Linked DNA regions of Homo sapiens: region 1 is linked to region 2. Evidence: fine-mapped expression QTL. A gene starts in region 2. The other region holds a variant in brackets. All regions are shown on one strand. Distances are between the middles of the regions.

What was found. PIP is the estimated chance that this variant, and not a neighbour inherited with it, causes the effect.
Region 1: its variant is the best candidate, but not a certain one, in a credible set for the expression of EXOC3 in lymphoblastoid cells (GEUVADIS, PIP 0.66).

The regions. Positions count from the first base shown.
Region 1 is chr5:486,491-491,856 of GRCh38, forward strand. It overlaps SLC9A3 (solute carrier family 9 member A3), which reads right to left. Exons shown (of 17, transcript NM_004174.4): 2 at 5,279-5,366; 3 at 1,826-1,986. Among named protein-coding and RNA genes, the nearest start is that of SLC9A3-AS1, 16 kb to the left of the region's middle. The variant C/T (reference allele first, on the strand shown) is at 2,310.
Region 2 is chr5:440,681-446,046 of GRCh38, forward strand. It overlaps EXOC3 (exocyst complex component 3), which reads left to right and starts at 2,496. Exons shown (of 13, transcript NM_007277.5): 1 at 2,496-2,610. It overlaps EXOC3-AS1 (EXOC3 antisense RNA 1), which reads right to left and starts at 2,480. Exons shown (of 1, transcript NR_126522.1): 1 at 1,155-2,480. RefSeq lists enhancers at 228-287, 298-357, 1,941-1,990, 2,011-2,120, 2,891-3,020 and 1 more and a silencer at 2,201-2,590.

The DNA of each region.
Region 1 (5,366 bases), 46 kb after region 2:
CCTTTGGGCCTCTGTGGAGGCACCGTCCCCGCCTCCCGGAACACCATCTCCTCCAGGGACACCCACACACCGTCCGGGCTCTGCCGTTAGCACCAGTTCAGTTTCCCTCCCTTCACCTCTGTCATGGGCCAAATTGTGCCCCCGAAATTCCCATGTTAAAGTCCCCAGGACCTGGGCATGTGAGCGTGAAAAAGGGGAGTATGGCACAGTCAGGTCACCGGGGTGGACCCTGATCCAATAGGACCCGTGTCCCTGTGAGAGGAGGCGACTCGGGCACATTCACGCAGGGACGGCCACGTGAGGACACGGGAAGGCACCGTCTGCAAGTCCAGGACCGGGGTCCCGCAGGAGCCCACCACACTGACACCGTGATCCAGACCGCACTGACACCCACCGCACTGACACCGTGATCCAGACCGCACTGACACCCACCACACTGACACCCACCGCACTGACACCCACCACACTGACACCGTGATCCAGACCGCACTGACACCCACCGCACTGACACCGTGATCCAGACCGCACTGACACCCACCACACTGACACCCACCGCACTGACACCCACCACACTGACACCCACCGCACTGACACCCACCACACTGACACCGTGATCCAGACCGCACTGACACCCACCACACTGACACCCACCGCACTGACACCCACCACACTGACACCGTGATCCAGACCGCACTGACACCCACCACACTGACACCCACCGCACTGACACCCACCACACTGACACCGTGATCCAGACCGCACTGACACCCACCACACTGACACCCACCGCACTGACACCCACCACACTGACACCGTGATCCAGACCGCACTGACACCCACCACACTGACACCCACCGCACTGACACCCACCACACTGACACCGTGATCCAGACCGCACTGACACCCACCACACTGACACCCACCGCACTGACACCCACCACACTGACACCGTGATCCAGACCGCACTGACACCCACCACACTGACACCCACCGCACTGACACCCACCACACTGACACCGTGATCCAGACCGCACTGACACCCACCGCACTGACACCCACCACACTGACACCCACCACACTGACACCCACCGTCGTTCAAGGCACTGCACCTGCGGTACTTTGTCATGGCGGCCCTGGCAGATTACGTGGTTCCTATGGGATTTTGTTGTTTGCTATTCACGTATTTATTTTATTTGAGATGGAGTCTCACTCTGTCACCCAGGCTGGAGTGCGATGGCACGATCTCGGCTCATTGCAACCTCTGCCTCCTGGTTTCAGGTGATTCTCCTGTCTCAGCCTCCCCAGTAGCTGGGATTACAGGCGCGTGCCACCACCCCTGGCTAATTTTTGTATTTTTAGTAGAGACGGGGTTTCACCATGTTGGCCAGGCTGGTCTCGAACTGCTGACCTCAGGTGATCCACCTGCCTCGGCCTCCCAAAGTGCTGGGATTACAGGCGTGAGCCACCGCACCCGGCCACTCATGTATTTTTTAGGAACTCAGGAATGGGTGGCAGTAACTGTGGGTCCAAAGTCACAGACGCTCTGGGGACCAGGAGGGCGGGATTTCAACAGCGCCATCATTAACCCTGAAGCTATGGAGTGGGCGGGCAGGGCCTGGGAACTGTGGAAGATACAAAGAAGCCTCGCGAAAGCTGCCAGTCGTTCTGAGCTGGGAGGAAGGAGGTGGAGGGACGGGACGCCCCCGGGAGGGGAGTTTGAGGACAGGGTTTCACGCCCTCCTTTGCTGACTGACCGATGGGGGGTGAGACGGGGCCCAGGCCTCCCACGGCTCGCCCGCTCTGGAGCGGTGGCTCCGTTGCTCACCACGGTGACTGCGTCGTTCAGCAGCGACTCCCCGAAGACGATGATGAACAGGACCTCGTTGACATGGACCTCCTCAAACACGGCCAGGACGGCCACCGGGTCCACAGCCGCCATGAGGCTGCCAAACAGGAGGAAGTCCAGCAGCCCAATCTGCAGGTCGCCTGGAAGACAAGCCGGGCCGCGGGGCAGCTGCAGGGCCTGCCACCCGAGGAGGAGGGCCCTGGGGAGGCGCTCGCCTACGGGTCGGGGTTCGGAGCCCGTCTGGCTGGCGCCGGTGGCGTGGGGAGCTGGGTCAGCTTCCTGCGTCCCTCCCACAGACCCCCAGCCCCCTCCAGGGAAGGCTGCTGTCTTCCGAGGGGGCCACCCCATCTGAGCAAGACAGACAGACAGACTGACCCTGGCCCTGGCCCTCTCCTTCATCTTTGGGTGAACGGAGGCAGGTGGGTGCAGGGGCACCGCATGCTGGGGAGGGATGGGGGCCCAT[C/T]GCCTGGAGTGGCGTCCCAGCCCAGGAGAAGCAAGTGGGGCTGACCCAGGACGGGCCCGGAGCCGGGACACACAGCACCCAGGGGCGCGGCCAGGGAGGGGCAGGTGGGAGGGCCGTTGGGGGTGTGGGGGCAGATTGTGGGGATGAGCAGGGCTGCGGTGGGAGCAAGGGGGCCCGGAAGACGTGGGTCCATGTGGTCCCTAGCTCCCGGCCGGCTTCCCTCCCCGCATCTGCCTGTGGGCTCTGGTGCCCCTCGCTGGGGAGGTTTTACTGAAATGCAGCCTTATCCTTCACAAGTCTTTGCCATTCAACCCAGGGTTCAGGCCTCGAGGAGGCCACGTGGGGGTGCCAGGCTCCAGGGGACCCTCAGGGAACTGAGTGTGGCCACGTGGCCCCGAGAGTCTGCCCTCTCTCACGGCCGCAGGGCTCAGAGGACACTGGGCCTCCTTGCTGCCTTCCCGGCCGTGAGGGTCCAGGGACCAGGAGACGCCAGGGCCGTGAGGGTGTGGGAGAGACCACCCAGGGAGGGGGAGGCCCCCGACGAGTCCCCCCGCACAGCTGCTGCCTCTCTGCTGGGCTGGAGCGGAGCCCACCACCCCTCTGGGCTGAGGCTCGGGCTGAGGAGGGGTTTGTCCCTGGAGCCGGACGGGCCCCAGGAGACAGCAGAGAGCAGCCTGGCCAGGGGTTTCTGTGCTGGCGCCTGGGAGGGGACAGATCAGGGTCATCTCTGCGGTGACTAAACCCCGAGTTTGCTGTGAGCTCCTAAGCCCCAGCAGCCTCTGGCCAGTGTCACAACACCCCGAGGAAGTGACAGATGCCAGAAGAACCAGCGTTCAGGGAGTTAAAGTTCCATGTTGGAACGGGAACCACACAAGCCTTCTCCTCTTCCAAACTCAGGCCTCAGGACACGAATCCCCTTCAAGGTCATCTTTAAACGCGGCCTCCTGGCACGGCCGCCCCCAGGGCAGTGATGGCCCCCATGGATGTCCTGGGGTCGGCCGCGTTCAGACTCCCCGGCCGGCAGCCTTCCCGTCTGGACAGTTGCCCACGGCCGTGCCAGGAGGGCTCATGCCACCAGACCGCATGTTCCAGGCCTTTCTCCACCACGTGCTTTGCCTGTGCAAGGGCCTCTGATGCCTGAAGCTCTCGCAGGGCCTGTCCCCACACTGCCCGGACAGCCCCCGGGCCAGCACTGCCATGTCGACCCTTTCCCATGGGGCACGTTTGGCCTTGAGACGCTCCACAGGGCTTGGCCTCTGGTCTGCAGAGATCAGTTGCAGCCTCCCAGCTCTCTTGGACTCCCAGGAATGGGATGGACCTGCCGGCCATGGGCATCTCTGTTCCAGAACCTCAGGCAGCACCCAGCTTTGACCAGCTGGGCCCCAAGGCTGAGCGCAGGCCTCCAGCATCCGTGTCACCTGGGGAGCGGCCTGCCCCAGGGGGCACAGCGATACCTGGGACACGTGTTTCTCATGAGGAGCGTTGTTGGAGGACGGTAGAGTCCAGCGTGGCGAGGGGCAGGGGTGGAGTGCAGCGTGGCGAGGGGCAGGGGAGGGCCAGGGGTGACGTCCTGGTGTGGGGAGTCCTCCAGGGCTTCATGGTGCAGGTGCAGCAAGGACGTCCTCCAGGCTCGGCCAGTTGCACCGAGGACATTCTGCTTCGTGCAAGGGAAATCCGGCAGTGTCTCTGGCCAATGCTAGGCGGGGACCATTGTGACGTGGCCACAGAGCCACGGAGTGTGCCCGGCTCTCAAAGGAGCGGCCCTGACGGCCAGACTGATCACAGGCTACTCCATCCCACACTCGACACAGCTGGGAGGAAGCTGGGATCTCATGGGCGAGGGGCCATCTGGCAAGGTAGGTGTGAGCCTCGAGGGGCCGCGGGTCCAGGAGTCTCTGCTACAACCCCTGAGGCTTTCCCTTGGGTGCGGTGGCTAGGGCGGCTGCCCCATCCGAGGTGTGTCCTGACCACCTATGGCATCGCCCACGTGACGGGCCTGCCATCCATGAGCCTGTCTGTGCCCTCGGCAGCTTTCCCTGGGCTGCACCTGGTGGGTGATGCTGGACGGCAGGGACTACAGGGAGGGGTGAGAAGGCGCCAAGGAACCACGTGCTGGGTGAGGCGGCCCCAACCCGGGAGCTCCTCTTTCTCCATGCGTCTCCTTGGTCTCAGGTTTCAGCCCCTTGATTCCCATGGAGAGGCCGGGCCGTGCTCTCTCTTGAACCAGACGGAAAATCGCCAATTCTTGTGAGTCTGGTTCAGCTGGTGGATTTGTTTGAGGCTGAGTTCTCAGACCGGTGAGGGCGGCAGGTGCCGGAGGCCTGCGCTCAGCCGTGGGGCCCAGCTGGTCAAAGCTAGGCTCTGCCTGAGGTCCCTGGACCCACCTGGTCAAAGCTGTAGCATCCCCGGCAGCAGCGGCGGGCATCAGGGCTGCACCGCACCTGGCATGTTGAGAGGCGCCAGCCACGCGTGGTCTGGGTCCGGGGCGGGAGGCAGTGCCCGAGAGATGAAGCATCCAAGACCAAAACCGCGCAGCAGTTCTGGCTCCGGCTGTGGCTGCAGCGGTGGCCGAGCGGCTCCGGCACACAGGCTGGGAGGGACGGTGCCCGATACACCAGGCTCTGCAGTCCTCCTCCTCTCCCTGGGACCTGGTGGCCGGCGAGTGTGGACGGACCCCTACCTCTGCCCAGTGCCGGAGGAAGAGCGGCAGCCCCTGGCCACCTGCAGCCCCCAAGCCGAGCTGCCGAGATGGGAACTCCTCCCCAAGCAGAACACGTGCTGGGACCTGGGGACGCGCAGGGGACTGGCCTTGGTCACGAGGGCCTACGGGGCTGCCAGCCACGTTTCTCACCTGACACTTACCGCCTGGAGGCCAGGGTGCGGCACCCCGACCTTTCTGAGATGAGGCAGCGCCGCCCCTCCCGGACCCCACCCTGATCCCGGCCGGGGCAACAGTGGCGCAGACTCACCCATGAGCCCACTGAGGAAGACGCCGTAGAGGGACAGCCCGGTGGTGGCCGCGTTCCACACGGTACCCACGACGGCGTACAACAGGAT
Region 2 (5,366 bases):
GGGTCAGGACTGTGGGTGCTTCAGTGCCCTCCCCTCCCTCCCCCTCGAGTTTGCTCCTGTCAAGGTGGAGGAGGATCCCTCTAGCAATGACCCTGGGTTGGCTTCCGCCGAGGGCTGAGTTTAGGAACAGTCTCCAGGCTGTTGCTGTTTTCCTAGTCCACGCTTTCACTGAGGATGCATCCCTTGCACATCTGTGCTTCACATGGGAGTCGCCGTCCACCTCCCACCTGCTGGGAGCCTTAGCTTCATCATCTGTCCTGCTTCAGTGTAAAACCCAACCCCTGGGCCGCAGAACTCGCACCCTACCCACCCACCTGCCTGCTGTAGGACGGCAAGCATCTCTGCTTCTGATTCACGTCCTCTCCCCTTCCCACATTTGTCCCTGGTCACGTCCTTGCCTGTTCGTGAATCCACTTGTGCAATCGACATGATGCTTGCACTCAGCAGTGCTCCTGGGTGTTCGCAGAACATGGTCTGCCAAAAACAGAAGTCAAGAAACTTTTTTTTTTGAGACAGATTCTCCCTCTGTCACCCAGGCTGGAGTGTAGTGGTGCCATCTCAGTTCACTGCAACCTCCTCCTCCCGGGTTGAAGCCATTCTCCTGCCTCAGCCTCCCAGGGAGCTGAGATTACAGGCATGCACCACCATGCCTGGCTAATTTTTGTGGGGTTTTTTTTGGTAGAGATGGGGTTCCTACCAAAAAGACCATGTTGCCCAGGCTGGTCTCAAACTCCTGGGCTCAAGGGGTCTGCCCATCTCAGCCTCCCAAAGTGCTGGGATTACAGTTAGGAGCCACTGCGCCCAGCCAATAAATACCTTTTTTTTTTTTTTTTTTTTTTTTTTTTTTTTGAGACGGAGCCTCGCTCTGTTGCCCAGGCTGGAGTACAGTGGCGCGATCTTGGCTCACTGCAAGCTCCGCCTCCCGGGTTCACGCCATTCTCCTGCCTCAGCCTCCCGAGTAGCTGGGACTCCAGGGGCCCACCACCACACCTGCCTAGTTTTTTTGTATTTTTTTTAGTAGAGACGGGGTTTCACCATGTTAGCCAGGATGGTCTCGATCTCCTGACCTCATGATCTACCTGCCTCGCCTCCCAAAGTGCTGGGATTACAGGCGTGAGCCACGGCGCCCCGCCAAGAAAGACTTCTAATCAATGTTTTGTTAAGAAGTTACTAGACAGTCCTCCATCCAAATTCACTACCAGACACTGATATAATAGTATGAGTCTTTAGTTCATAATACTCAATGTTACTATATTTTTAAGAGTCCTAAAAGCTTTGGCAATTTTGGCAATTTTTTCTTCATTAGTTTCAAAATTTCTTTACAGTCATAATTTCTAACACAATTTTAACTTTTTTACTTTTTTTCATTGCTCAACTTGTTGCTAGATTTTCAGAAATTACAAGGAAAAACTGAAATAATAGAGCCGGGGTCAGTGTCAACATCAGCAGGGCACGGGGCAGGGCTCCCTGTCGGAGTGGCAGTGGGGGCTCCCGCAAGCTCCATCTCCTTCCTGTGTGCCCCTGCCCCATGCTGCTGCCACTTCCCTGGTCTCTGCTGGCTTCCCTGCCACCTTCCAGACCCTTCCTTTCGTGTGGCTAATTTTCAGGAGGGGCAGGGGCACAACCTAGCAGCTCCAACCTATGAAAGACTTTGTCAGTTGGTGTGTCAAAGCCAGCATCTTTTATCAAACAGACAAACCCTGAACGCTCGTGGTTTAGCACGTGCTTCTTCCTCCAGGCGAAGCCAAGTGCTGGCCATGGGCCTCTCCTCCAGGAAGCGACTCAGGACCGGCCCTCTGCAGCGCGGCCCAGTGACCCACATTCATTCTCCAAGACCTGCGCTGCTGGGCCTCTGAGGGGCCCCGGAAACATCCGGTGGCCACCCATCCCACTGGCATTGTTCCCACGAGGGTGCCAATGACTGCGCTCCTGGAGGGGCTGAGTTCGTCTTTGGGTCCAGGAGGTACCCAAAGCCGCTTGTCTGCTGGTGGCAGGTATGACAGACGTTTGATTCCCAACCTTCTCCGCTTTGGTTTCTTCGTTTACTGAATGCCCGGCGCCCACCTCAGTCCGCGGGAAACGAGGGACGCCCCTGCCACACTGCAGTGCGGACGACGAGGCCAACATAAAGACAGCAGGCATCAGCAGAGGATGGAGACAGCGGCTCTGGGGCTGTCTTCTCTCCGCAGGTTGGGAAGGGAAAGGAGAGAAAATGCACGCAGTCACGCTCGGCGGAGGCGTCCAGGACTGCGCCCGCCCTGGGGAAGGGCGCACGCGGTGGTCGCCAGGGGCAGCGAGAGGGCCTGAGTTGGGGGGGCTGGGACGGACAAGAAGCCCCCCACCTCGGCGGTTTCCCTGTCCTGCTGGGGAGCGGCCATGGGGCAGGTCCCCGAGCTGAAGTCGCTCGGCCGGGAGACGAGTACCCGCCCCGCGGGAGGGCCCGGACCCGTGCTTCCGGCGCCGTTGCCGGAAGCGGAAGTGCCCGCGCGCTGTCCACTTCCGGCCGGGACCCCGGAGGCGGAGGCAGCGAAGGCGGAGGGGGCGGCGGGGGCGGCGGCGGCGGCGGCGGCGGCGGCGGCGGCGGCGGCGGCGGCGGCGTAGCCGTAGAGGGTGAGTCGGTGGCAGGTCCTGACGGCCGGCGGGTCCTTGGGAGGTGGTCGCCGTCTTTCATCCTTGCTCTCCCTGTCTCTGGCTTCCGCGGGGGCGCGTAGGGGGAGGCCGGACCGGGACCTGGAGGGCGGGGAGGCCGTTCCGGACCCCGTGGAGTATCCCGCTCGTGCGAGTGTCCTCGGCGCAGGTGTCCTCCCCGGCACATGTGTCCCCCCCAGGCGTAGGTGTCCCCTTGGCACATGTGTCCCCACAGGCACAAGGTCCTTCCTGGTGCAGGTGTCCCCTTAACAGTGTCTTCCCCCACGCCCCAGGCGCTGGTGTCCTTCCTGGCACAGGTGTCCCCCCTCGGAGCAGGTGTCCCTCCTTGGGGCAGATGTCCCTCCAGGCACAAGTGTCCTTCCTGGCGCAGGTGTCCCCTCGGCGCAGGAGTTCTCCAAGGTGCAAGTGTCCCCTCAAGCACAGGTGTCCCTCCCAGGCACAAGTGTACTTCCTGGTGCAGGTGTCCTCTTGACGGTGTCCCCCCCCAGGCGCAGTTGTCCTTCCTGGCACAGGTGTCCCCCCTCGGACCAGGTGTCCCTCGTCGGAGCAGGTGTCCTTCTGGGCACAAGCGTCCTTCCTGGCCTTTAGGAAGCTTTCAAGGTGCAGGTGTCCTCCAAGGTGCAGGTGTCCTCCAGCGGAGTGTCCCCTCCGTGAGGTGCCTCCCAGCACAGGTGTTCCCCTCGGCGCAGGCGTCCCCCCGGTAAAGGGTCCCTCCTGGCAGAGGTGTCTGCCCGGCAGAGGTGTCTCCCTGGCGCAGGTGTCTCCGTGGGTGCTGATGTTCCCCGCAGTAGGGTGTCCCCCCGCTCGGCGGAGAGGCTCACAGCGGAGCCAGCGCCAGGGGAAGGCAGTCAGAAAGGCCCTGGTAGGGGCTGGACCTGGGTCTCTGTTTATGGTCTCTGAGTTCCTCTTTGGCTTCTGTGACCCAAAATCTTTAGTCTTCAGGCTGGGATGGAAGCCTCTGCGGTGCGTTTTTTAACTCCAGATTTTCCCCTTTTCCACATGAGTAGCTTTATTCTGACTCCAAGGCGAGCCCTGCTTCACAGCTCTCCACTCACATTGCCTTGGCTTCCACCCACAGCGTGACAGACTTCACTCCAGCCTTAAGATGGGCGCAGCCACCTCACCGCGTGCCCCAGCAGAGCGGCTGGGGGTCCACTTCTTGGGTTATTATCCAGCCCTATAATCAAAATCATACAGGCTTTAATGTCAATGGAAATGCTGATGATAATGTCCAAACAAAATAAGAAAACAAAAGTGTGCACCTACAAAGTCATATAAGCAGTGGAATCTTAGCTTTAAAAGAAACTCAAAGGGAAAAAACTGGAAGGAAACAAGCCCTGTTGGAGGGAGTTGCCCCTGAGTGTCGGGATTTAAGGGGAGTTGTCCCTGGGTGGCGGGATTTAAGGGGAGTTGCCCCTGAGTGGTGGGATATAGCGGGGGTTACCCCTGAGTGGTGGGATTTACGGGAAGTTGTCCCTGGATTGTGAGATTTAAGGGAAGTTGCCCCTGGGTAGCAAGATTTAAGAGGAGTTGCCCATAGATGATGGGATTTAAGGGGAGTTGCCTCTGGCATCTTTGTATTTTTGTCCTGTCCAGATTTTCTACGTTGGTATGCCAAATTTCATAATCAGAAAATAAAGAGAAAGGAAAGGTTGCAATGTAGGTCCAGATGAAAAAGGAGAAGAGAGGTGTCTGAAAGCATGTGGGCATGGAGAATGAAAAATTCCAGGAGAAGGTGAATCTTTTTAATATTCATGAAGATGAAAATCAGACAGCTGAAGTCAAGGGGAACAGGTGTATCGGATTCCCTCATTGACTGATGCTCACCAAGCAGCTGTGTTAGCTCCCCGAGGAGGACGATGGTGGAGGGAGCATGGAAGGCAGGCTTGCCTGGCATCTGAGCACCTGTGGTCTGCACGGGGCCTGCATAAAGGAGGGAAGCATGATGTTTTCTAGGACAGTTAAAAAAGGGGGAAATGGGGTTTTGGATACCCAAGACAATAATGACTTTTTCTTTTTTTTTCTTTTTTTTTTTTTTGAGACGGAGTCTCGCTCTGTCGCCCAGGCTGGAGTGCAGTGGCGCGATCTCGGCTGACTGCAAGCTCCGCCTCCGGGGTTCACGCCAGTCTCCTGCCTCAGCCTCCCGAGTAGCTGGGACTACAGGCACCCACCAACATGCCCAGCTAATTTTTTTGTGTGTATTTTTAGTAGATACAGGGTTTCACCATGTTAGCCAGGATGGTCTCGATCTCCTGACCTCGTGATCCACCCGCCTCGGCCTGCCAAAGTGCTGGGATTACAGGCGTGAGCCACCGGGCCTGGCTGACTATTGTCACTTTTATAGGGTGGGAATTGTGGGGCTTGTGCTGGGCCTCCAGCTGTGGTACCTGGTCGGGGGAGTTGTCCACGCTGTATTTGTCTTCACTGAGGGTCCTGGTGCAGCTGCCCACAGGCCTGGCCAAGGTGCTGGGGGAAAGCTCCCGAAATGAGAAACCAGCCCTGTCTTGGGGAGAGATGTGCCTTTGAGGCTGACATCTACATGCTGGGTGGTCTGGGACCCACATCTAGAATCTTCGCAATGTCCATGTCTCTCATGCCTGTGAAACGCCCCTGCTCTCCCCTTAAAGGTATAACTTCTGCATGTTTGTGTTACGAAGGTTTGTTTATCTTATCAAGGAGTTCCTCATCCTAGTTCAGCTTTCTTTGAGGTTTCCTGG